Homo sapiens: one gene and its partners. The protein of the gene in region 2 purifies or fractionates together with the protein of the main gene of each other region. This does not show direct contact. Each region holds a gene or a part of one and is shown on either strand. Other genes may lie near its edges. The genes, in order: DBT, MTRF1, PALM, LYPLA1, MEIS1, ASB7 and XRCC4.

Region 1 (3,500 bases), on a different chromosome or scaffold from region 2:
GATCTCAGCTCACTGTAGCCTCAACGTCCTTGGCTCGAGTGACCCTCCTGCCTCAGCCTCCCGAGTAGCTGGAACTATAGGCGTGTGCCACCATGCCCAGGTAACTTTTGTATTTTTTGTAGAGATGGGGTTTCACCATGTTGCCCAGGCTGGTCTTGAACTCCTGAGCTCAAGCAATCTGCCTGCCTTGGCCTCCTAAAGTGTTGGGATTACAGTCGTGAGACACTGCGCCCAGCCAACTTGAAAGTTTTAGTAAGCATTTGATTCAATAACTGTAATTTTAATAGTCTTTATCTAAAAACCCCTAAGGTTAGTCTAAACTGTTACATATAAAAATATTTGAGTATAATCCAAATTTTGTCCAAGAAAATACAAGGTATGTGTCAATGGATTAGGTCATTTGTTCCCCCTCTACAATACTGTGTAGTATTTTTTCGAATGTTCTGAAACTTATGTTTTATTTTAAAACAAAATAGCCAGGCATGCTGGCTCATCCCTGTAAGACCAGCCTGGGCAGCACTGCGAGACACATCTCTACTAAGAATAAAAAAAAATTAGCCAGGTGTGGTGGTGCACACCTGTGGTTCCAGCTTCTCGGGAGGCTGAGGCAGAGGATCACTTGAACCCAGGAGTTCAAGGTTGCAGTGAGCTGTGATTGTGCCACTGCACTCCAGCAGCCTGGGCAACAAAGTGAACCCTTTCTAAAAAAAAAAAGAAGAAAGAAAGAAAAAGGGAGATAAAGAAGAATAGTTTCTGCCTCATGAGGCTCAGCGCCCAGTAAGTGAGTAAGTGAAGAGAAAACTGAGTAAGCACTCAATGCACTGAGATAAGTTAACAGTGGGAAACAAAAGTATTTAATTCAAATAGTGACAGCCACAGAAGGAGTCTGTACCTGACCACAGTTTGGGATTTGCAGGTGTTTGATCGAGAAGAACGGGCACTTCAGGTGGAATTGTGTATTCCAGCAATTATGGGTACCTTAATATGAGGGAGTGAGGTAAGAATGGAGAGGCAGGCAGCAGAGACTTATAACACATTTGTATGCCACACTAAGGAGTATGGCATACAAATTATCCTGAAGGTAATGAAAGGGAACCACTGAAAAGAATCAGAGAATATTACAGTAATTTGATTTACGGAAGACCAGTCTTGGTGCAGTGTAGAGAAAGGACTGGACATGTTGGCATTACAGACATCAGTATGTCCTTCTGAGTAAAACAGACCAGAACCTGAAAGAGCTTCTCCACCTGTTAGCTGTAAGTCCTTAACAAGTTTCTCAACCTCTCTGAGCCCCAATTTCCTTAAATGGAAAGTGGAGACAGTAATATTTACATGTCAGGGTTACTCTGAGAATTAAGAGATAATGGGCCCTGCCCCGCGTCTGCCTCAGAGGGGCCCGAGCCACCCGGGGCGTGCGCCGCGTCCCCGCCGGGGCCGACAGAGCCGAGCCGGGCCGCCATGGACCACAAGACTCTGCTGCAGGAGCGGCCGCCCGCCTACAACCTGGAGGCCGGCCAGGGCGACTACGCGTGAGGCCCGCACGGCTACGGCGCCATCCCCGCCGCGCCCCCGCAGCCGCCCTACTCCTACCTCGTCACACGGACACCCACCCACCATCCCAGGGTCTACAACATCCACAGCTGGACCGTCATCCGCTATCCTACCAACTCTATCGTGGTCGTGGGAGGCTGTCCCGTCTGCAGGGTCGGGGGGCTGCAGGACTGCTTCACCTTCCTGGGCATCTTCCTGGCCATCATCCTGTTCCCCTTTGGGTTCATTTGCTGTTTTGCCTTGAGGGAGCGAAGATGCCCCAACTGTGGAGCCACCTTCGCTTAAAGGGAACACCAGGCTCGGCCTTTCCTACACCCAGCTCTCTTTTTCTAATGTAAATGTTGTGTTCAATAGTTTTATTTGATTAAGCTTCAGGACTGTTTTGTAAAGCGAGGTGGGACCGATGTGGCACACGCCAGCTGCGGTTTCCCGGAGCGTGGAGAGGCAGCGCTGCTGCTCCTGCCCCAGGCTCATGACAACTCAATGAAGCACTGCTTTTATTTTTTGCAGTCTTCAATTTGAGAAAGGTGAGAAATAATCTTTTCAATAAATGAGATTCATACCAAAAAAAAAAAAAAAAAAGAGAGAGATAATGTATACAGCATGCTTACTATGGAGGCTGGCACATGGTAGCTGCTGCACAGTCACTAATGTGAGCTAGACTGTATGCTGCTCAAGGTTAGCTGATGGTCTTACTCCATTTTATACTGGTCCCAAGGCTTAGCACTAGAAATGATTCCCAGGATCCTCAATATAAGTTGGTTGAGTAAATGAAAATAAATATTAAATATATGTCAGTGATATTGCAAAATTAATATCAAGTCTCATTTTAGTTCAAACCAAGACTTGGTTGGAGTGATCCTTTTAGGATCAGAGGCTTTACTTAACTGGCAGAATTGTCTCTACCTAGCTCAAAGATAAGCAGCTAAAAATATAGTACAGAAATCTCAATTTTATAATTTCCTATTGAACAAAGAAATGGCACATTTTCTAACTATCTGATGTTGCGAAAAGTAATATTTTTATTCAAGGCCACAGTCAACATATTGCATGTTGGCAAAGCAAAATTTAAATGTCCTACTTGGGGCCAGGTATGGTGGCTCACGCCTGGAATTCCAGCACTTTGGGAGGCTGGGGCGGGGGTGGATCACCTGAGGTCAGGAGTTCAAGACCAGCCTGACCAACATGGCGAAACCACGTGTCTACTAAAAATACAAAATTAGCCAGGCGTGGTGGCAGGTGCCTGTATTCCCAGCTACTCAGGAGGCTAAGGCAAGAGAATTGTTTAAACCCGGAAGGTGGAGGTTGCAGTGAGCCGAGATTGTGCCATTGCACTCCAGCCTGGGTGACAAGAGCAAAACTCTGTCTCAAAAAGACAAACAAACAAATAAATGTCCTACTCAAGCCTTGTTTGAAATGAATGAATCTCACCTTTAAGAAGAAAGGCATAAAGGAGAGTTTAATTCCACGAGCAAATGCAATGGGTTTTAATTCTTCTCGGAGCTTAACCAGTTCAGTAAGGTCAATCTCATCACAATAACCAAAATGAGGTATCTTCAGGGCTGCAGACATAGTCTTGACCATTGCTTTTTGAAAGCCTGAAAAGCATTAAATTGTTATTCATTTATTTAAATTCTCAAATCTCTTCATCCTTTTTTTTTTTTTTAAAGAAACTAAAATGGAAGGTTCTCTAATGTCTTTTACTCTCTCAGTTAAACCCTTCCTCTTACTACTCTCTTCATTACATTACACTGAAAGTCACTAATTTCAAAGCTGGAACACTGACTGCATCATGACACTCAGTGGCAAATGCAATAACATAGCAGGTAACTGCTTTAAATGCTGTGTTATATAAAAAATTCAAAAGAATGCAAGCCATGTATTTCCCTAACAGCTTTCCTGCAAAGCCACTCTTCTGGAAGTTAATCATTCCAGGAGTTTATAAATAA
Region 2 (3,500 bases):
GAACAGAATCTCTCTTCCTGTTATTGAGGTTATCTCCCTTTTATTCTTGAAAGTCTCATTCGAAATACACCTATCAGAGTTCACTCAGGATATTTTCTACTACTCTCCTTTTCATAATGCTGCTGTTTCTTCTTACATTCTCCTTGAAACTCTCTCCTCTTTTGCTTCCATAATATTTTACTGTCCTCATCCTTTTTCTGATTATCTTGAATCCTCTTTTTATTTTGCTAACTGGTCTATCCTTCTAAACATGGCCATTCTCCAAAGCTTGTTGCCCTGAATGCTCTCTCTCTATAGACTCTCCCTCACTTATTCTCTCAGTATCAGACATTATCTCTGAGCTGACAGGTATCAAATAGCTTGCCTGAGTTCTGTTGTCTCACCAAAGATCTGGTTACTCAATTTCAATATTTACTCCAAATTTTTTTTTTTTTTTGAGACTGAGTCTTACTCTATCGCCCAGGCTGAGTGCAGTGGTGTGATCTCGACTCACTGCAACCCGTGCCTCCTGGGTTCAAATGATTCTCGTGCCTCAGCCTCCCGAGTAGCTGAGATTACAGGTGTGCACCACCACACCCAGCTAATTTTTGTATTGTTAGTACAGACGGGGTTTTACCATGTTGGTCAGGCTGGTCTCGAACTGTCTCCCGAAGTGCTGGGATTATAGGCGTGAGCCACTGTGCCCAGCCTATTTACTGACTATTTCTAAGTGGATGCTCACTATAACCTCAAACTTAATGATTCAAAAACCATTCATCATTATTCTTTCCAAATGGTTTCTGCCTTCCAACTTCTATTCCATTCAATGGCATGAATGAGTATCACAGTCTTCTCAGCTAGAAAGATTAGACTCCCTGTGGCTCATCTCCTTTGTGTCAGAATAGAATAATGGGATATAGTGCAGCTCTGGATCAAACAGACTAAAATGTAATCCCAGGATTGCCATTACTTATTGTGTGGTCTTGGATTAGTTACTTACTCTCTGAGCCTAGATCCTCATCTGTAAAATGAGATTAGTAATATCTATTTCACAAGGGTGTGAAGTTGTGCACACAAGACATACTGGATAAACAACAGCCCCTCTCACATCTAGTTACTTAGCAAATTATGCCTATTCATCCTTTGCAGGTCTCTGACAGATAATTCTACTCCCCATTCTAACTCTTAGTCATATCTGGATTACTCTAATAACCTCTTTGCAGTCTGCACTAAATCTAGCCTTTCCATCCATCCATCCATCCATCCATCACTATTGTCAAAATAATCTCCTTAAAATATATATCTTATCAAATCATATTCTTATTAATGCAATTTTCAACAGCTTCCTATTGCCCATCAATCAAAGCTGTTCAAAATCTATCCACTCAAACCTACTTCAGCGATTACTTCCCTGACAAGCTATGGGTAAACTGGCCTCCCCACCACTCCCTTCCCCACACACCAAGACCTCTCCCACCAGCATGCTGCTGCTCAGGTTGTTTCTTCTCTCTGCTCTCATGGATAATCCCCTTTCCTGACCACTGGTTGTATCTGAAATCTGTACCAGGTACAACTTCCTTATGCTGTAGGCTGGTTCTTATTTCCCTTTACTGCTCAACTTACATGAATCCTCTCTCCCCACTTTGATAGTTTGTGGTTTATTACTGATGACTCCTCTGTCTACTACAATGTATCACTGTGTAACCAAGCAGAGGAAAACTTTCAGATGGATTAAAAGAATGAGACAAATGAGAGAATTATTATCATGTTTTCAATCAATATACTTGAGTATTTAAAGGTAAAGAACTGCACTGTTTGTCTATGTTGTATCATTTTTTTTTTTTGAGACAGTCTCACTTTGTTGCCCAGGCTGGAGTGTACTGGTGTGATCTTGGCTCACTGCAACCTCCCCATCCCGGGTTCAAGCGATTCTCCTGCCTCAGCCTCTCGAGTATTTGGGACTACAGGCACGTGCCACCATGCCCAGTTAATTTTTGTATTTTTAGTACAGTCAGGGTTTTGCCATGTTGGCCAGGCTGGTCTCAAACTCCTGACCTCAGGTGATCCACCCATCTTGGCCTCCCAGAGTGCTGGGATTACAGGCGTGAACCATAGTGCCCAGCCATTATAAATTTTTATCAGCCAAAAGAGAAGTTTCTTGAAAATAAAGACAAATGATTAACTTTTTCCGCATTCTCATAAAAATCAAACACATTAGCCACTTAGTCTAATTAGTAATACTTATATTATTTTATAAAGTTATTTAAAGTAAAAACCTTAATATACCTTTGCTTTCAATAATAGAGAAAAATGATTTTGAGGCAAGATACGTATCTAAGTTCCTCAGGGGAATTTTCTCTAATTCACATATTTCTCCCTAAGCAAATGCTTCCCTCCTTTCTACTGTCTTCTCCTAGCTAACAACTCTGCTATAATAGTAAGCCACTGTGATTGATGAGCCTATGCCACAGTGTTTAGTAGATATACACCAAAAGTTTCAAAAAAAAATGGGACAATATGGTTCTAATCAAGATCAGAGGTAAAATAATTTTCAGTATCTCCTACAGGCAAATTCCTCAATATGCCTACCATAATCTGCTGGTGTATAATTCAGAAGTTCAAATTGCCAGTGTTTATAGCACGAATAATTCTGGTACATGTCAAATATTTCTCGGGTAAATTGTTGGCAGATGTCACCTAAAACAAAATACGAAAAATATTTAGTCAGGACAAATTTCGGAAAGCCACCCTTAAGACTAAGTCCTTTAGGAAATAAAGAATAACTATTTCCAAATTTAAATACATTTAATGGACTTTTAAAGTTAGTGTTATCAAATAAGGTAAAATTCAAGGACTTTTTAGATCATTTAAATAATAAAGTAAGTTTACTGACCTCCAGTAGTCCTTCCAGCTGTCACCTCTAAAATAACATCATTTTTGTCATATTTCTCCTTTGGCACAAGGCTCTGGAAAAGCTGGAATAAAAATCAGCATTTGTGTGTATATTTTCCCCGGTACACTATTACTGAATTAAATAAAGGCCCGAAAAACATTGAAAAAAATCAATAATTGGCAAAATCATATAGTATCCCAAACAGGGTATTCCAAAAATGCTATAATAAGTAGAACTAATTAGACCTAAAATAGGTGATCAATTCATGTTAACAATGGAGTTACTTGTCAGTATATTTTCTGCACTGTTATCAGATTATCTTAATTTTCTAGAATGCAGAAGTTCAGATCAAAGTCCAGGGTGTTCCATTCAATTTTCTTCAGATTTTGGCGCTTATAATTAGTTCTGAACAGTAGCTTCTTTCATCTAATGAATGAAGCAAGGCTTTGAAAGTCTTCACTTTGAGAAATGATTTCATATTATCTTCTGCTATAACTGACAGCAGACACCAGCCATGCTGTGCCTTCTCAGCAGAGACGCTCTAATTAAAGACTATGTTGAGGGCTCCCAAGATAAGGCTCAAAATGAGTTTCTCAGCTGTGACCAGAAAGAAAAAGGGCTTCCTAAT
Region 3 (3,500 bases), on a different chromosome or scaffold from region 2:
ATTTGCAGCGAGCATGTTCAGGCGTGAGCGCCACCCCCAGCGGGCCCCAGGAGGGAGCCGTGAGATTAGGGTGGAATGAAAGCCGTGAGGTCGCGTCGGTTAGAGCCGCCATGCGTGGGGCCCGTCTTCTCGGGGAAGCGTGGGCCGGCGTGGGACCAGGGCAACAAAGCAGAGGGGGCCCCCACCCCAGGCTCGGAGCCTCGGCCTCGGTCCAGCTGCCACCCCCATAACCACGGCCCCGTCAGACGCTGCGGAGAGCAGGTCGGTGTCGCCCCCGCCCCACCCGGCCCCCCGGACCGAGACTTGGTCCCTGACAGCGGCTGGATCTGGGGCCCAGAGCCTGGGGGCCAACCCACCTGCCTTCATCATGGGGGAGCCGTCAACCGTCCTCAGGGGCGTGTTGGAGACTCGCTTGTCTGCACGGGAGGTGGAAGCGGAGAGAGAGATGAGGGTCAGAGGAGAGGTCACATGGACCCCCCAGACAGCCCAACGCCCCTTCACAGAAGTGCATCCGGACTCCCACATGCACCTGGGCCTTTGACACCCAGACCCCACCCAGACACAGGAACCTGGGCCCCCAGACACCCAGACAGGCACCTGGGCCCTCAGACACACAGATCCCACCCAGACACCCGGACACAGGCACCTGGGCCCCCAGACACCCAGACAGGCACCTGGGCCCTCAGACACACGGATCCCACCCAGACACCCAGACACAGGAACCTGGGCCCCCAGACACCCAGACAGGCACCTGGGCCCTCAGACACACGGATCCCACCCAGACACCCGGACACAGGCACCTGGGCCCCCAGACACCCAGACAGGCACCTGGGCCCTCAGACACACGGATCCCACCCAGACACCCAGACACAGGAACCTGGGCCCCCAGACACCCAGACAGGCACCTGGGCCCTCAGACACACAGATCCCACCCAGACACCCGGACACAGGCACCTGGGCCCCCAGACATCCAGACAGGCACCTGGGCCCTCAGACACACGGATCCCATCCAGACACCCGGACACAGGAACCTGGGCCCCCAGACATCCAGACAGGCACCTGGGCCCTCAGACACACAGATCCCACCCAGACACCCGGACACAGGCACCTGTGGGCCCCCAGACATCCAGACAAGCACCTGGGCCCCCAGACACACAGACCCCACCGAGACACCCAAACACAGGCACCTGGGCCCCCAGACACACAGACCCCACCCAGACACCAGGACACAGGCACCTGGGCCCCCAGACACACAGACCCCACCCAGACACCAGGACACAGGCACCTGGGCCCCCAGACACAGGCCCCGCACAGACACAGGCACCTGGACCCCCACCGCAACCCCTAGAAAATCCCACAGGCAGCCTCACAGTTCATTCCTCATCCTCAGCCCAGTGATTTTCACAAAATCCCTGAGAGGCCTGTCTGGATTTTTTTAATGATTAATTTTTAATTCTACAGTAAGACAAGAAGACACTCTCCTTATGAATAATTAACACACAACAAACCAGGCCAGAAGCACTTCAGACGCCAGCGTCAATCCCGGCTGGTGGCTGTCCCGCTATCGATACAGAAGCGGACACGTTCCGTGAAATGCAGTTTACAGACAGGGTCTCGCTCTGTCGCCCAGGCTGGGGTGCAGTGGTGCGATCACAGCTCAACCTCCTGGGCTCAAGTGATCCTCCCACCTCAGCCTCCCGAGCAGCTGGGACTACAGGCGTGCAGCACACACGGCTAATTTTTGTATTTTTAGTAGAGACGGGGTTTCACTATGTTGGCCAGGCTGGTCTTGAACTCCTGACCTCAAGGGATCCACCTGTCTCAGCCTCCCAGAGCGCTGGGGTTACAGGTCTGAGCCACTGGGCCTGGCCGGCGGCTAATTTTTTTATGTTTGGCAGAGACAGGGTCTCCCTGTGTTGCCCAGCATGCTCTTGAACTCCTGGGCTCAAGCGATCGATCCTCCTGCCTCAGCCTCCCAAAGTGCTGGGATTACAGGCATGAGCCACCACACCCGGCTAATTGTCTTTGCATTTTTTCAGTAGACACTGAGTTTCGCCATGTTGGTCAGGCTGGTCTCGAACTCCTGACCTCAGGAGATCTACCCGCCTCGGCCTCCCAAAGTGCTGGGATCACAGGCGTGAGGCACCGAGCAACTTTGTAGCTTCACTCCCCGCCCTGCCATCCCCTCTCTGGCCACCAGAGTGCGCCGAGGCCCCACGAGTTCCTTCCAGAGGTCCTACCTTTGGGCGTGCCCACCGGCGTCTGCAAGAAAGAAGAGAGAAGGGTCAGGGGCGTCAGCATCCCCGGGAAGAGGAAGGGGAGCCATGGGGTCAGGAGCCTGGGGAGGGCATGGCACAGTGGGTGACGTCATACGCACCCGCTTCTCATCCTATCCTCTTGGGACTCTGGCCAGAAACACAGAGGTCATCTTTCTTTTTTCTTTTTATTGAGATGGAGTTTCGCTCTTGTCGCCCAGGCCGGAGTGCAATGGGGCAATCTTGGCTCACTGCAACTTCCGCCTCCTGGGTTCAAGCGATTCTCGTGCCTCAGCCTCCCCAGTAGCTGGGGTTACAGGCCTGCGTCATCGCACCTGGCTAATTTTGTATTTTTAGTAGAGACGGGGTTTCTCCATGTTGGCCAGGCTGGTTTCGATCCCCTGACCTCAGGTGATCCACCCACCTCGGCCTCCCAAAGTGCCGGGATTACAGGCTGAGCCACCACGTCCGCTCCATCTCATTTCTTCCCTCCCTCCCCACATACCCCCGCATCAGCGGCTCCCGCAGGCCACCCTGAATCCAGCCGGCTCCTCCGTGCCCCCTCCAGTCTCGTCCACTCCTGCTCTCAAGCGATCCTCCTCCCTTGGCCTCCTGGGAGCCACTGTGCGAGGCTCAGGGTCTAGTGTCGCCTGTCTGAACCCGTTCTGCCCTGCATGGTCAGACCCTGCACACAGGCCCCTCTCCCTGAACTGTGCCCTGGCATCCCTGGTCTTCTTGCTGTTTCTGGGACACACTCCTGTCTCAGGGCTGTGGTGTCTGATGCTCCCTCAGTGCACTCTTCCCTCATCACGTCACTGGGTGTGCCCGTCAGGAAGGCAGGGGCCGTGCATGTGTATTGCTGAGTCTCCCATGACAGCACTAGTCCATGCTCAAACAACCTTCAGGGAAAAGCACCTGGAGAACTCCTATTCAACCTTCAAAACCCACTTCCTTGGCTGGGCACGGTGGCTCATGCCTCTAATCCCAGCACTTTGGGAGGCCGAGGCGGGCGGATCACCTGAGGTCAGGAGTTCGAGACCAGCCTGACCAACATGGCCAAACCCTGTCTCTACTAAAAATACAAAATTAGCTGGGCGTGGTGGCGGGCGCCTGCAATCCCAGATACTTAGGAGGCTAAGGCAGGAGAATCACTTGAACCCAGGAGGTAGAGGTTGCTGAAATCGTGCCATTGCACTCCAGCCTGGGTAACAAGAGTGAAACTCTGTCTCAAAAAAAAAAACACAA
Region 4 (3,500 bases), on a different chromosome or scaffold from region 2:
ATGTTATAATATCAAGGTATCTCCCCACAAAATATTTTTTAATATTTTAATTACATATTCAATATTTTAAATATTTCATATGTTATATTTATTATTTTAATGTGGAGAAACCTGGCAGACACCATCTTAACCAAGTGATAAAACACATCAGTAACAACAAAATCATCATGAGGTCTGCCTAATATGATGCACTGTTATGGACACAGCAATACCCCTATAGTGTTACTGTCAAAAAGGTATAAATCACAAAACATCAGATAAACCCAAACTGAGGGACATTCTACAAAGTAACTGGCTTACACTTTTTTTTTTTTTTTTTGGTAGACACAGGGTCTGGCTGTTGCCCAGGCTGGTCTCAAACAGCTGGGCTCAAGCGATTCTCATGCTCAGCTTCCCAAAGCACTGGTATTACCATACCCGGCCTGTATTCTTGACAAAGTGTCAAGGTCATGAAAGACAAGGACTGTTTCAGAATAAAGAAAACTAAAGAGAAATGATAAGTAGAGGCAATATGTGATCCTAGACTGATAAAGGACATTATTGGCTCAAATCAATGAAATGTGAATGGAGCTGGTGGATTAGACCGTAGTATACCATCAGTGTTAACTTCTTAATGATGGTTATACTGGAGTGTCCTGGTACTTAAAAATGTACACTGAAGAATTAAGCTGTAATGAGGCAACACGCCTGCAACTTATTCTTTAATAGTTCAGAAATATTAACAATTGGGTAATTTGGGTGAAAGGTATAAGGAGCTATAAATGTTATTTCTGCAACTTTTATGTAAATTTCAAGTTATTTAAAATGAAAAGTTAAAAAGTTTAAAACATAACAGAATAGAACATAACCTATTAAATAAATCTGAGTCCAGGCATGACACAGTGGTTCATGCCTGTAATTCCAGGGAGGGACTGGGAGGCCGAAGTGGGCAAATCACTTGAGGTCAGGAGTTCGAGACCAGCTTGGCCAACATGGCAAAACCCCGTCTCTACTAAAACTACAAAAATCTGACTGGACACTATGGCTCACGCCTGTAATCCCAGCACTTTGGGAGGCTGAGGAGGGCAGATTACGAGGTCAGGAGTTTGAGATCAGCCTGACCAACATGGTGAAACCCCCCCGTCTCTACTAAAAATACAAAAAAAATTAGCCAGGCGTGGTGGCACGTGCCTGTAATCCCAGCTACTCATGAGGCTGAGGCAGGAGACTCACTTGAACTCAGGAGGCAGAGGTTGCAGTGAGCCAAGATCACGCCACTACACTCCAGCCTGGACGACAGGGCGAGACAAGGTCTCAAAAAAAAAAAAAAAAATTAGCCGGGTGTGGCGGCACGCACCTATAGTCCCAGCTACTTGGGAGGCTGAGGCAGCAGAACTGCTTGAACCTGGGAGGTGGAGGTTCAGTGAGCCGAGATTGCACCACTGCACTCCAGCCTGGCTGGGTGACAGAGCGAGATTCTGTCTCAAAAAATAAACAAATAAATAAATAAATAGAAAATAAATCTGAGTCCATACTAACTAAATGGGGAGTAGCAGATTAATAAACAAAATGGAATGACAAAAAAAAAGGAATGACAGAATTGGAAAATCACACTGTAGAAATGATTGACTCAAGCAATTATCAATGGATGATAAAAATATTGGGTGAAAGCTTGATGAACAACTTGCATAGTCACAAAGTATCCCCCCGCAACTTGCTTTTTAATTACAAAAGGAAAGTAACTGCAGTCGAGACCTGGAAGATACCACCTTAATCAAAAGATCGAAGTTACAACAATAAAAGGACTCAGCATCATTAGTCTACTGATGCGCGCAATGAATAGGACATATTGTTTACATGGTATTTATACCAGAAATGCATAAACTGAATCTAATCATGAGTAAATACACAAACCCAAATTAAAGGACTAGCCTGTTCTCTGCAGAAGTGTCAATGTCGTGAAAGACAAAAGAAAATCTAGGGAATTGTTCCAGATTAAAAGAGACAAAAGAGACTAAAGAGACGTGATAACTAAATATAATGTATGACTAGGGAGGAGATAGCTATAAAGGATATTAATGGAACAATCTGGCAAAGGTTGAATGCATAATATATTAGATAATACTAAATGTTAAATTTAATGGGATAACTTTTCTGTGATTATATAATGTTTAAAATACCCTAGTCCTTCTCACCCACAGTTTTGTTTTCCATGGTTTCAGCTGCCCACAGTCAACTGTGGTTCGAAAATATTACATGGAAAATTCCAGAAATAAACAGTGGGGGATGCTCTAAAACCCCTAGTGGATGCCTGAATCCATGGATAACACCAAACCCTATATATACTATGTTTTTTCCTATACATAATGCTTGTGATAAAGTTTATTGTGTAAATTAGACATAGGAAGAGATTAACAATAATAAAACAATTATAACAATATGACAACATCACTTCTCTTGCACTTTGGGGCCATCATTAAGCAATGTAAGGCTTATTTGGATAAAAGCACTACAGGCTGGGCGAGGTGGCTCATGCCTGTATTCCCAGCACTTTGGGAGGCCAAGGCGGGCAGATCGCTTGAGGTCAAGAGTTCCAGACTGGCCTGGCCAACATGATGAAACCCCGTCTCTACTAAAAATACAAAAATTAGCCGGGTGTGGTGGTGCACGCCTGTAGTCCCAGCTACTCAGGAGGCTGAGGCAGGAGAGTTGCTTGAACCTGGAGAGTGGAGGTTGCAGTGAGCCATGATTGTGTCACTGCATTCCAGCCTGGGTGACAGAGCAAGACTCTGTCTCAAAAAAAAAAGCAAAACAATACCAAAACAGTTGACCTGATAACCCAGATGGCTACCAAGTGACTAACAGATGGTGAATGGATATAGCATGGATACGCTAGGTAAAGGAATGATTCGTGTCCTGGGTGAGACGGAATGAGATTTCATCACAATACTCAGAATGGTGTACAATTCAGGCCAGGCATGGTGGCTCATGCCTGTAATCCCAGCACTGCGGGAGGCCGAGGTGGGTGGATCACTAGAGGTCAGGAGTTCAAGACCACCCTGGCCAACATGGCAAAACCCCATCTCTACTAAAAATACAAAAAAATTAGCTGGACGTGGTAGCACGCGCCTGTAATCTCAGCTACGCCGGAGGCCGAGGCACAAGAATCACTTGAACCCGAGTGGCAGAGGTTGAAGGGAGCCGAGATCGTGCCACTGCACTCCAGCCTGGGTGACAGAGTGAGACTCCATCTCAAAAAATAATAATAAAATAAATAAAAAAGAATGGTGTACAATTTTAAACTTATAAAGTATTTCTGGAATTTTTCATTTAGTATTTTCAAACCACAGTTAACCACGGGTAACTGAAACCATGGGAAGCAAAACTGCAGGTAAGGGGAGACTACAATATCTTAAGTATTAAATTGCCACTTGTCAGGCTGACAGGTTCGAAGTTTCATCATGCACTCATGGAACCAATCTAGAGTCAGCCTTTCCTTAGCATTATCCCACCAAATAATT
Region 5 (3,500 bases), on a different chromosome or scaffold from region 2:
GTAAGAAGTTGCAGGTAGACCTACTAATGTGGTCAAACAGCTCAGAAAAGGTGATTAGTTTTTCTCAGGTTTTCAGTGTTTTTGTTTATGTTTTATTTTTTAATTAAAGGTTTCCCCCTTTGATATCTACACATTCTAGGGGTAGCTGACATCTGTGTTCTTAATAACAACAAACAGTTCTTGCCACCAAAAAGAAGCAAATAACATCTAGTACCTGTGGGCAGTTGGCTAAGAGGCTGTGGTATTTTTTGTGTGTATTTGCTTTCTACCTGGGGATCAGAGCAGGCCTGGAATAAATGTCGTTGGTGTTGTCCACTGCAAGGCTTCAGGAGGACATAGACAAAGATCAGCCTACTGAGCAGAGAGTGGTCCAGGTATTGAATGGACTCAATATCCTAGAAGGACTCACATTCTAGCAGGCACTTTTTAAGAATCACTAATGTTTAACCTAAGGATTAGAGGGGAGAAGGCTATAAAGCATAATGGCTATGTTTAACTATTTGAAGGGCTATCCTGTGGAAGTAAAATTAGAATTGCTTACAGTACCCCAAGGAGTTGTGCTGATAAAACTATTAGGTTGGGTGCAAAAGTAATTGTTTTTTTTTTTTTTAATTATACTTTAAGTTCTAGGGTACATGTGCACAACGTGCAGGTTTGTTACATATGTATACATGTGCCATGTTGGTGTGCTGCCCCCATTAACTCGTCATTTACATTAGGTATATCTCCTAATGCTATCCCTTCCCCCTCCCCCTGTAATTGTTGTTTTTGCCACTGAAAGTAATGGCAAGACCGCAATTACTTTTGCACCAACATAAATATTTTTGATCTAGTAAGGCAGAACCTTCTAACAGCCTTGTTTATAGATGGGGTGGCCTCTTAAGTAAGGTGGTGAGTGCTGTATTAGTTCAGCAGAGGTTACCTATGTACTTTTGGGGGACAGATATCATATAGGGGATTCATGTCAGTGACCAAACGAAGTGACCATTACAGCCCTTTTGAAACCTGAGGTGTAATTTTTAAAAATGAACTCACGACTTTAATAGTCATAGACTCAAACCTGAGTTGATTATTATGAATTAGTTTATGGGAGTCTCAATATGTGAATATGATGGAGACAAGTTTTGGAATACAGATAAATCAAGTCACTGTATTCACTCTCTCTCTCTCTCTTTGAATAGCCTTATCTTTGCCTATACACACAAACAGTGCAGCCATCAAAATTTTCAATTTACAAAATGTTCACAGTCATGCTTCTTCCTTGACTAAACACTGGGGTTGCTGCCAGTGGTAATTGGCTTGAAACCAGCTAATTTTTATATATCTATTTAGTCTGGATATTCTAGATGAGTGGCACTATAGTTGCGGTGCTCTAGTCACTGTGCCAGAGCACCAGGGAGGAGGGTGCTTGCTACCACTGACAGCTGTGTGTCATTTAGCAAATTATTAACATCTCTTTGGTAACATGTGACCTCAAAGAAGTCACCTAATTTCTCTGAGCCCAGGCTTCTCATCTGTTAAAAATGTCTCTTCCTATTTTTAGGTAAGTAGTATAAGTCACATCCATAAAAGATTATGTTTTTAAAAAGTCTGGAAAAAGAAAGTTAATAGACAGAATTCCTTCCCTCTAAGAGTCTGCAGATAATGAACAGTACCATAGATAAAGAGATGTTTTTGCTCTCTTACCTACATTAGTTACTATGAAAATTACTTTTGGTATATGCAGAATATTAATATTAAATAATTTTCTAATTGGTCATGCAGTGAAGGCAGCTAATGAAAAAACAGATTTTTTTTCATTTTAATTGGTTATTTCACATGGTGTTTGTGCTACACCTGTGCTTATAATGAGAATGGAGAATTAATCTAACCTTCTGCTCACATGATTCCAGTTTTCATGGTTTATACAAGATAATGATAACCTGATTTGCAACACAATTTGTTGTAGACCTGTGTTTTAAATATTTTTATTAGCAGTTCAGGGACTTCATATACAAGAACTGATATAATATGTATTGCCAACAAGAATTAGCACAAACAGTATACCTTTTAGTTAGATTCTAGTTTCATTATTTGTTTCAATTACTTCTCAGATAATGAAAGAACACAAGGATACAGGATATTGAGAATCTTAAAATGTTATGAAGTATGCATTTTTGTTTTGAAAACCTGTCCCTGTCTGTTTAATGGTTTGGTTTTTAGGAACTATTTTCCTTCCTGAAGTGGGCAGATTTACAAACTAGAATTCATACTGGACTATGGATCCTTTAATCATTAATAGAGCCTTATTAAACTTTTCATTGTATTTTTTATGTCCTGCTCAGATTTGATCTGAGTTGGGAACTAAAAGGAATTTACTATTTCAGAATCTAATATGTCCTCTTCATTTTCTGGATTTGATACGTAATTTTTAATATTATGCAGAACAAACGGATCTTAAGAGAATCTCATGCGTATGACTCTGGAGAGCGTATATTAATACTTTTTTACATGTCAGTGACTTGTCACTTTTGGAGAGGCTACAAAAATAATTGTACAAAACTATCTTATTAAGGCACTTAAAGTAACTTAAGTGCCTTAATAAGATGTTTATAAATTTTCAGTACTAGCTGGAGAAAGCAAAACTATAAGTTCAATTACTGTATATCTGTGACCTTGCCTTGACCTCAGACTTTACATAAAGAGCAAAAAAAAAAAAAACAACAACAACAAAAAAAGCCACCCCAAGAAATCTCTACAAGGAATGCATTTCTCTGAAGTCCTAAGCAGTGTGAGTTAGTGGTGATAAACTCCAGACATTCTCTCATTTGATGGTGTGCTGCCATCCCAGTTCATTATCTTAATAGTGGGCATTAAAATAGAATTAGGTTTGCAAGAGGTAGGGGTGGTTTTGATAAAAATTGTACAAAAGAAGTCAGAGAACATAAGATTGAAATGTCACTAATTAGGAGAGGTAACAGATGCCCTTATGAGCATCTAACTCTTTACACCAATTTTCTCTCTTTGCAAATGAAAGGAGTGGTGGCTAGTATTGTTTCCTGAAAACTCTGCTAATTCCCCCATGAAAAGATGAAATGGAAGTGTCCAACTGTGGTAAAACAGGCAAACATAAATCAACTCAGAAACCCCAAGCCTGTGTACTCAAAGGTCACTGGGGGTTACAGGTTTTCCAGCACGTGAGGCTGCACATAGAGCAATGGAGAGAACTGAAGGAGTCCCATTTTGCCAAGATCTAGTTTTACTCCAACTGCGATTCATCTTTTCCTCTTCCTCAACCCCCCCTTTTATTTTTAAGGAATAACGATTTGTTTCACTTTCTTGGTTACAGGTTTATTAATGCCCGGAGAAGAATAGTGCAGCCCATGATAGACCAGTCCAACCGAGCAGGCAAGTCCCCCATAGTGACTGTATTCAAGTCACGCAAGCGAAAACCATCCTCAAGCCATTCACCGGGAGGTCCGCTACCTGGTAAATAAACTGGGAGTGAGTATAGGAACGCC
Region 6 (3,500 bases), on a different chromosome or scaffold from region 2:
TCTTTTTTTTCTTGAGAGAGTTTCACTCTTGTCACCCAGGCCGGAGTGCAGTAGCACAATCTTGGCTCACTGCAACCTCTGCCTCCTGGGTTCAAGCGATTCTCCTGCCTCAGCCTTCCAAGTAACTGGGATTACAGGCATGTGCCACCATGCCCGGCTAATTTTTGTATTTTTAGTAGAGATGGGGTTTCACCACGTTGGCCAGGCTGGCCTCAAACTCCTGACCTCAGGTGACCCACCCGCCTCAGCCTCCCAAAGTGCTAGGATTACAGGCATGAGCCACTGCGCCCAGCCGTCACTACCATTTCTACTTGACATCGGTCACACCTTCACTGTTCTCTCTTTAATTTATTCATTCCATTCTTTTTTTTTTTTTTTTGGCTACAAGTAAAAAACCAAAAACTGGCTTCTTATAAACACTGCCAACTAAGCAGGACGCAGCTTTCCTCCCACAGGTGGCGCTCATTATTCAGGCAGGTGCTATGGCTCCTCTTAGCTGTGTTTATCATTCCTGGGCACAGAGAAGTGGCTCCTCCATGGATGGGCCCTGCTGCGCTCCTGACGTCCTGGAAGGGGGAGGTTCTGAGGTCTGAATGCTGGACAGCGGGCTGGCTGTAGGGAACAGCAACAGCAGCTCTTCATGGCCTCTCCCCCTACTCAGCACTAACAAGTCACAAGCAGATGTTAGTTTATTACCAAGCCACGGGTGCGCTCTGTTTTTTTTTTTTTTTTGCACTATATAGATCAGAGTTTTTACGGCAATTTTTCCAAAAGGCCAGAGGAGTTTTTAAATTCTGGTATTATAATTTTTTTGGTCTCTTCCAATTTAAATAATCTGTTTCTAGGCAAAACAGTGTGATGAAGAGTAAAATGTCCCTGAATGAAGACCACCATGTGGCCCCTCTGCTGTCCTTATACCTCGGCAGTCTGCGATCTCCAATCATAAGCCAACAGCATGATGCCTGGGGCTGCGGTGCCCACAGCACGCGGGCTAGAAGAAGCTCTCAGCTTTGATTTAGTGCTCCCTGAACCAACCAACCTTCTTTCAAGCTGCTTTTCATGAGAAAGCTCAGTCCAGAGCATCAGCCACAGCTGCTCCTTCTAGCCCATATTGTTCACCAGGAAAAGAAAACCTATTTAGAGCCAAAGAACACACAGGTGAAGCAGAAACACCAAATTTGCTTTTGGCAGGAAACACCACTGGAGAGTCAAGAAATACTAAATTATGTTGAGGCACCTGAAGACAAAGGACAACTGGAGCCTTAACAGACGGAGGACCCTGCACTCAGGAAAGCAGCCTGTGCTTCCTCAGTCCCCACCCCTCGCTGTGCGCAGTCAGCCAGACTGCCAGGACTACTGAGGACCTCCTAGGCGCACAGCTCTGCTCCTCGTACAGTGGAGAACCTAAGCACAGACAGAGGCAGTCCCCACTGACATTTCTATCTGCTCAAATTTTAAAGTGCATGTGAGTCTTTAACTCAACATTCCTGCTGTCCAACAGCACTGCTAGGGGCAGCTCTGAGGGCTCAGGGACACACGGCAGCCGCCCACGTGCTTGTCCTGCCCAGCGGCTCCTCTCGGCCACGTGGCTGCGTGCCTCCATGTACAGACTCTGGACAGTTGTATACAGGGTTGAAACTGGGAGGCTTGAGTTGAATATGAATCTAAAGATTTGCTCTGTTGGTGGCAAGCCAGTCCTCGCTGTTAATCCCCCCTCACTTTATTAGTTACACACTTCACCTTGAAAAACAATTACAAAGAACAAGAACATTTTAAGTGTTAAGTGCATTATAAATATTAACTCATTTAATCCTCATAACAAGCCTGTATTATCTTAATTTGAAGGTGAGGACACTAAGGCACAGAGAGATTAGGCGACCTGCCCAAGGTCACAGCTAACATGGGATAGAGTTAAGGCTCAAACTCTTGCAGTCTAGCTCTAGTCTATGCCATTAACCACTGAACAAAGTATTTTAAAAAAGGGGGCTGAGGCATTTAAGTGAGTATATAACATGCCTTCCTAAGGGCGGCCACACTCATCATAACTAAGTCTCTAATGTAGAAGTTGAGAGAACAACAACAAGGCAAGCAGGACTGCAGCACTGCGGGTATCACGTCTCCCAACTGTGGCGACTTCTGTGTGTCTCAGAAGCTTTCTGCAATGGAACACCCACCAGTCAGCCCCAGATACCTCTCCCAAGGCAGGCAGATCTGTGTGGACCAACAAAGGAACCACCAGGCACTTGTGGCCATTTAAACTTAAATCGCAATTAAATAAAATTGAAATTTCAGTTCCTCAGTGGCAACGGTCACATTAATAGGTGCTCAGCAGCCACATGGGACCAGTGGCTACTATACTGGACAGCAAGGAGAGACCATTTCCAACATCACAGAAACTGGTACTGGCCAGCACTAAGTAGACTAAGCAGTGTGATTTTTTCTTACGCTTTAGTCTGAAAACATTAGTGATAATAATTGCATCTTTTCTTCCATGAATCTGCAAAATTCAAATTACATTTTGTTTCTTCATAAAGCAAATGTGTACTCCAAAGGCCCGCTCCAAGGGGTAGAGTGGGTTACTTACAAGCAGGTCAGGTAGAGCCCTTGCCCTCTAGTAGCTGGTACCCAGGATGTTAATATGTCCTCTTGTATAATAATGACCGAAGGCTCAAAACCAGTGAGGAAAAAGGAACTCATTAAAAAGTTCAGCAGACAGCAAAATCCATTTTGTTTACAGATTTTAGCTTCATGGTGGACATTAAGCATGAGACACACATTCAACTGGTCACGTGGAAGCTTGACAAGAGAGGATGGCTAAGTACACACAAGCTGATACCCCATCAGAGGAACAACTAGGACGCACGCGTTACTACACAAAGTGGGCCAGACACTTCCAGGCTTTAAAAAAAGCACCCACACAAAAACGTTCAAATACAATGGAAGCCATGTGGTCCAGGGACAGTGGTGCCAAACTTCCCACTGCAAATATTTTCTTACAACAATTTCTAGCATCCTTAACTTCCACGAGTGGTATCCCTAAATACACAGCACCACTGCTCCATTTCATGTGGGCTCTCATGAAGCAGAAAAGCCACAATTAAAACGTGAACAACTTAGCAATAAAGCACAAATTCTAGGATATTTTCACAGGTAAGGAATCTAAGATCCAAAATTCCCCCTCTAACTCCTCAACTTGCAGTCAATGGAAGCCAGGTAAGATTATCCTTATGACCAACAGGAATTGCCTTGTTCTAACACAGATCTTTGTTCATTTAAAAAAAATTCTCCTCTCTGTCCTTCTCTCCATTCCTTCCCTCACTCTTACTGTCTACCCCTATTACATTTAGAAACACAATTGAATTTTTATGAAATCTTGTGATACAGTCAAAGTTTTTTTTTTATTTCAGAAGAATGAGGCATCGCTTACCAAGCAGTGGTTATAGGAATGATTAATATCTAGTCATCTTAAGTTGCAAAAACACATTAAGCTCCTCAGAAGA
Region 7 (3,500 bases), on a different chromosome or scaffold from region 2:
CCTTTGAAACTCCTATTCTCTCCTATCCCCTTCCTTCACCAATCCAGTGAATATGTTCTATTAAGATCCTTAATAACGTTTGTATTGCTAAATCCATCAATCAGCAGGATACCACATTTATATTTTTGCCTCTTACCTCCTGGCTGCTCCTTCTCAGTCTTATTTGCTCAGTCATAACCCCTTCATCAGCAAATCCTGCTGCCTCTAAGCACACCTAGAATCTGCTCCTTGCTCATCGCCTCTCCATCACTCTGGTCTAAGCCAGCCTCATCCTTCACCGAATTGTTGTACTAGCTTCCCATCTGTTATATCTTCTTCTGCATTTGTCATCCTATAGTCTATTCTTAACACAATACACAGACTAATCCTCTTGAAATTTGAGTCAGATTATGTCACCTGACTGTTTAAAATCCTTCAGTAGTTTCCAAGTTAATTCAAAGTAACAGGAGAAGTTCTAATGGTAGCCTATATCGCCCTACACGTGATGAGGTCCCATCATCTCTCTCATCTCATTTCCTAATTCTCCCAGTCTTCATCTTTCTACTTTATCCAGATTACACTCTATAGTATTGCTTAAACGCGTCAGGAACTTTGTACTTAGTGTTTTTTTGTTTTTGTTTTTGTTTTTGTTTTCTGTTTGGCATGGTCTTCCCCAAGACAGCATGTCACCTTCACCTTCTCACTGAGGCCTTTTCTGATAGTCTGGCTAAAATCATAACCCTCATCCTTATTCTCACCCTGACCTTTCTAACGCCTTCTCTGGTTTATTTTTCTCTTTAGCACTTATCAACCTAACATATTTTATATTTATTCATCTTATATGTTTCCCTGACTACAATTTAAACTCCACAATGGCACAGATTTTTGTGTTTTGCTGTCTAATGCATAGCAAAGTTTCTAGTACATAATAGGAACTCAAAAATATTTTCTAAATAAATAAATCAAGCATTTATTTTAATAGTATTGGTTTTAGGTCAAAACCATCTAAGTATAAAATGAGTTCAGAGGCTCCTGTTTCCACCGTCACTAGGAAATCTATAAAACATTTTAAAAAATAACTCATGGGTTTAAACACTTGCTGGGAACTTGATCCAAAGGACTGAGTAAGTCATAGGTACTTTGTACTAAACTGCCATTTTTCCCCTTCTCTTTTCCTCTATTACATCTCACTTGTTGCAATCTTTTTTCTGAAGAGTGAAAGAAGGCCTCAACTTCAGTATAATTTAGAGCATTCTTGATTACTCTGCTCCAGTGGCCTATTCATGGCTTTAGCTAAATAAGATCTCAAATGTTAAAGGCAACCAGCTTTAAGCTGATGATATTTAGCATAAAGGTGTTTCTTCCTCATTGCTTATGCTTTTCCTGGTTATATTTAACCAGGAATAGTATACCTTGGAGTATATGTGTATGAATGCTTGCTCACACTGCTGTGCTAATGAGTTGCTGCATTTTACAAATAATATTAAGTTTTAACATTAAAAATTTGAGTTTTTAAAATAAAAATGCTAAAGAATTTTCATAGAATAAGGTCTTTCACAACATTTTTCCATTATGGTTTCTTGTCATTAGAATAAGAAGCCCAAATAAGATATTCAACAGAGGAGATAAATGTATGTATCTCTTACCTGAAGCCAACCCAGAGAGATCAGTTTGGTTTTCACTTTCCTCATCAGTACTCTCATCATAGACTGGATCTCGGTCAGCAGTCATTTCAGAACAGATTGCAGTTTCCCTAGAAACAGAGAAAGGTAGAATTATAAATAACTGGCTCACCCCCTGCTAGGCAGCAGATTTATCAGTAAGCAATTATAGAAAATATTCCTAGAAAAAGATTCTAATTAGACAAACATATTGAAAATATATATGATTTAGATGAAAGCATCTTAAAACCTATATATTAACTCTCTTAAGAACAAGTTTCTCTTTTACCTAATTTTAATCTGAATTTAGTACTTATTATAATTAATATTAAATCAGTTTCTTATCAGGTACTATTCTTCCATCAAAATACTTTTTCTAACAAATTATCTCTGTGAGTCACAGAGTATTTAACATTTTACTAATCTCAGAACAGTTCGCATTTCATTTGATCTCTGCAAAACCCTAAGATGGGTATCTTTACCTTTATTATGAAGATAAAGTGACTTGTCCAAAGCTATAAACTAATAGGTATGACTGCAAGACCAGTACCTGTGCTAGGACTAGCTGATATCAAATTTTTTTATACTACGTCACTGGTAATTCTGTACTTCTACTAAGATTCAAAGCAACAGACCCTAACTTGTATTTGCTAATGCGTAAAAAAGTTATAATCGTCGAAAGCCGTATCAGCCATTTGTCACTTAGGATTCTTCCATAAAAATCAAGTACATATGTACTTTCAGAGAATATGTGAAAGAAGAATAAAACTGATAATCACACTCTAATCAGATAAAATAAGTGCTCCCTGGAATTTAATATTAACCACTTGATTCTAAAGTTAATCATTGCCTAGACATCAAGATTACAAATATGCATCCAACTTTTGTAGTTCTGCAGATGAAAGTTTTTTTTTAAATTAGTATGTCTTACTAATGTCTAAGAATTAAATAATACTTTAATAAGCCTCATGTCAGTTTTTTAATTTAAGTGTAGGTGACACAGTTGAGCAGACATAGAGAGACCATGCTGAGAACTCTCTAGCCCATGGTACCCCTATCTAACAGCCTGAACATCCACATCCAGACTACCAAATTATCTCATATGATCAAAAAGTTGGCATCTAATGTTCATTAACTTTGGGAAGAAATTCCACTTAAATGTATTCATCTGTCATCCAAAAACAAGATAGCGAAAATACCCTTCTTGTTTGATGTCCTTTTCTCGTTCTTGAGCTGCATTTAATAATTTATTATGCAAACTTCTGATTTTTGTTTTCTTCTCATTCAACACCAGAATAAACCGCTTATAAAGATCAGTCTCCAAAGCTTCCTTAGCACTCACACATTTTTCAAATCTAAAAAAGTAAATAAGTAAACAAATTAGTCATGCAGTTCTGCTTAGCATTAACATAATTCAGCCTAATAATCAAGAAGATTTCAAGGAAAATACAATTAAAGATTATTTTCACATATGCTTTCACTGACTTGGAAGTTTTATAAAGATGGTTAAATACACAATTAGAAATTATTGGTTATTAATGTAATTTATTTACTGAGATAAGGATCAAAATTGAAAACTGATACAAATAAGCCTTTAGAAAATCAAAATGCCTAAAGATAATTTATTGATACATATGGTTTATTTACAAAAGAATGTTTTTATGGGATAAATTTCAAACAAGAGTAAATGTAGCCTGTTTCCTCAGTACTATGTTAATATTACTATAAAAGCAACTACAATCTTATTTTGTGATAAGGCAACATAGCTAATTTGTCTGATTTATCTACTAGACAACAAACTGCTCCACAACAAGAACACGACTTATCCAGTTATATTCTTATAAGCGAGCACCACACACA

What was found.
Region 1: the proteins of MTRF1 (region 2) and DBT purify together in Homo sapiens (affinity purification with mass spectrometry; one large-scale study listed by BioGRID and IntAct). This does not show direct contact.
Region 3: the proteins of MTRF1 (region 2) and PALM purify together in Homo sapiens (affinity purification with mass spectrometry; one large-scale study listed by BioGRID and IntAct). This does not show direct contact.
Region 4: the proteins of MTRF1 (region 2) and LYPLA1 purify together in Homo sapiens (affinity purification with mass spectrometry; one large-scale study listed by BioGRID and IntAct). This does not show direct contact.
Region 5: the proteins of MTRF1 (region 2) and MEIS1 purify together in Homo sapiens (affinity purification with mass spectrometry; one large-scale study listed by BioGRID and IntAct). This does not show direct contact.
Region 6: the proteins of MTRF1 (region 2) and ASB7 purify together in Homo sapiens (affinity purification with mass spectrometry; one large-scale study listed by BioGRID and IntAct). This does not show direct contact.
Region 7: the proteins of MTRF1 (region 2) and XRCC4 purify together in Homo sapiens (affinity purification with mass spectrometry; one large-scale study listed by BioGRID and IntAct). This does not show direct contact.

What each region holds. Positions count from the first base shown.
Region 1 is NC_000001.11:100,211,835-100,215,334, forward strand, and holds part of DBT (lipoamide acyltransferase component of branched-chain alpha-keto acid dehydrogenase complex, mitochondrial isoform 1 precursor), read right to left. Parts: intron 3,150-3,500; coding exon 2,983-3,149; intron 2,117-2,982; exon of another isoform or gene 1,389-2,116; intron 1-1,388. UniProt on the Homo sapiens protein: The branched-chain alpha-keto dehydrogenase complex catalyzes the overall conversion of alpha-keto acids to acyl-CoA and CO(2).
Region 2 is NC_000013.11:41,250,077-41,253,576, forward strand, and holds part of MTRF1 (peptide chain release factor 1, mitochondrial), read right to left. Parts: intron 2,955-3,500; coding exon 2,873-2,954; intron 2,677-2,872; coding exon 2,569-2,676; intron 1-2,568. UniProt on the Homo sapiens protein: Mitochondrial peptide chain release factor that directs the termination of translation in response to the peptide chain non-canonical stop codons AGG and AGA.
Region 3 is NC_000019.10:732,935-736,434, reverse strand, and holds part of PALM (paralemmin-1), read right to left. Parts: intron 2,263-3,500; coding exon 2,241-2,262; intron 417-2,240; coding exon 357-416; intron 1-356. UniProt on the Homo sapiens protein: Involved in plasma membrane dynamics and cell process formation. Isoform 1 and isoform 2 are necessary for axonal and dendritic filopodia induction, for dendritic spine maturation and synapse formation in a palmitoylation-dependent manner.
Region 4 is NC_000008.11:54,095,448-54,098,947, forward strand, and holds part of LYPLA1 (acyl-protein thioesterase 1), read right to left. Parts: intron 1-3,500. UniProt on the Homo sapiens protein: Acts as an acyl-protein thioesterase. Hydrolyzes fatty acids from S-acylated cysteine residues in proteins such as trimeric G alpha proteins or HRAS.
Region 5 is NC_000002.12:66,564,125-66,567,624, forward strand, and holds part of MEIS1 (homeobox protein Meis1), read left to right. Parts: intron 1-3,328; coding exon 3,329-3,387; intron 3,388-3,500. UniProt on the Homo sapiens protein: Acts as a transcriptional regulator of PAX6. Acts as a transcriptional activator of PF4 in complex with PBX1 or PBX2. Required for hematopoiesis, megakaryocyte lineage development and vascular patterning.
Region 6 is NC_000015.10:100,630,089-100,633,588, reverse strand, and holds part of ASB7 (ankyrin repeat and SOCS box protein 7), read right to left. Parts: exon of another isoform or gene 3,380-3,500; intron 1-3,379. UniProt on the Homo sapiens protein: Probable substrate-recognition component of a SCF-like ECS (Elongin-Cullin-SOCS-box protein) E3 ubiquitin-protein ligase complex which mediates the ubiquitination and subsequent proteasomal degradation of target proteins.
Region 7 is NC_000005.10:83,203,047-83,206,546, reverse strand, and holds part of XRCC4 (DNA repair protein XRCC4), read right to left. Parts: intron 2,996-3,500; coding exon 2,840-2,995; intron 1,733-2,839; coding exon 1,626-1,732; intron 1-1,625.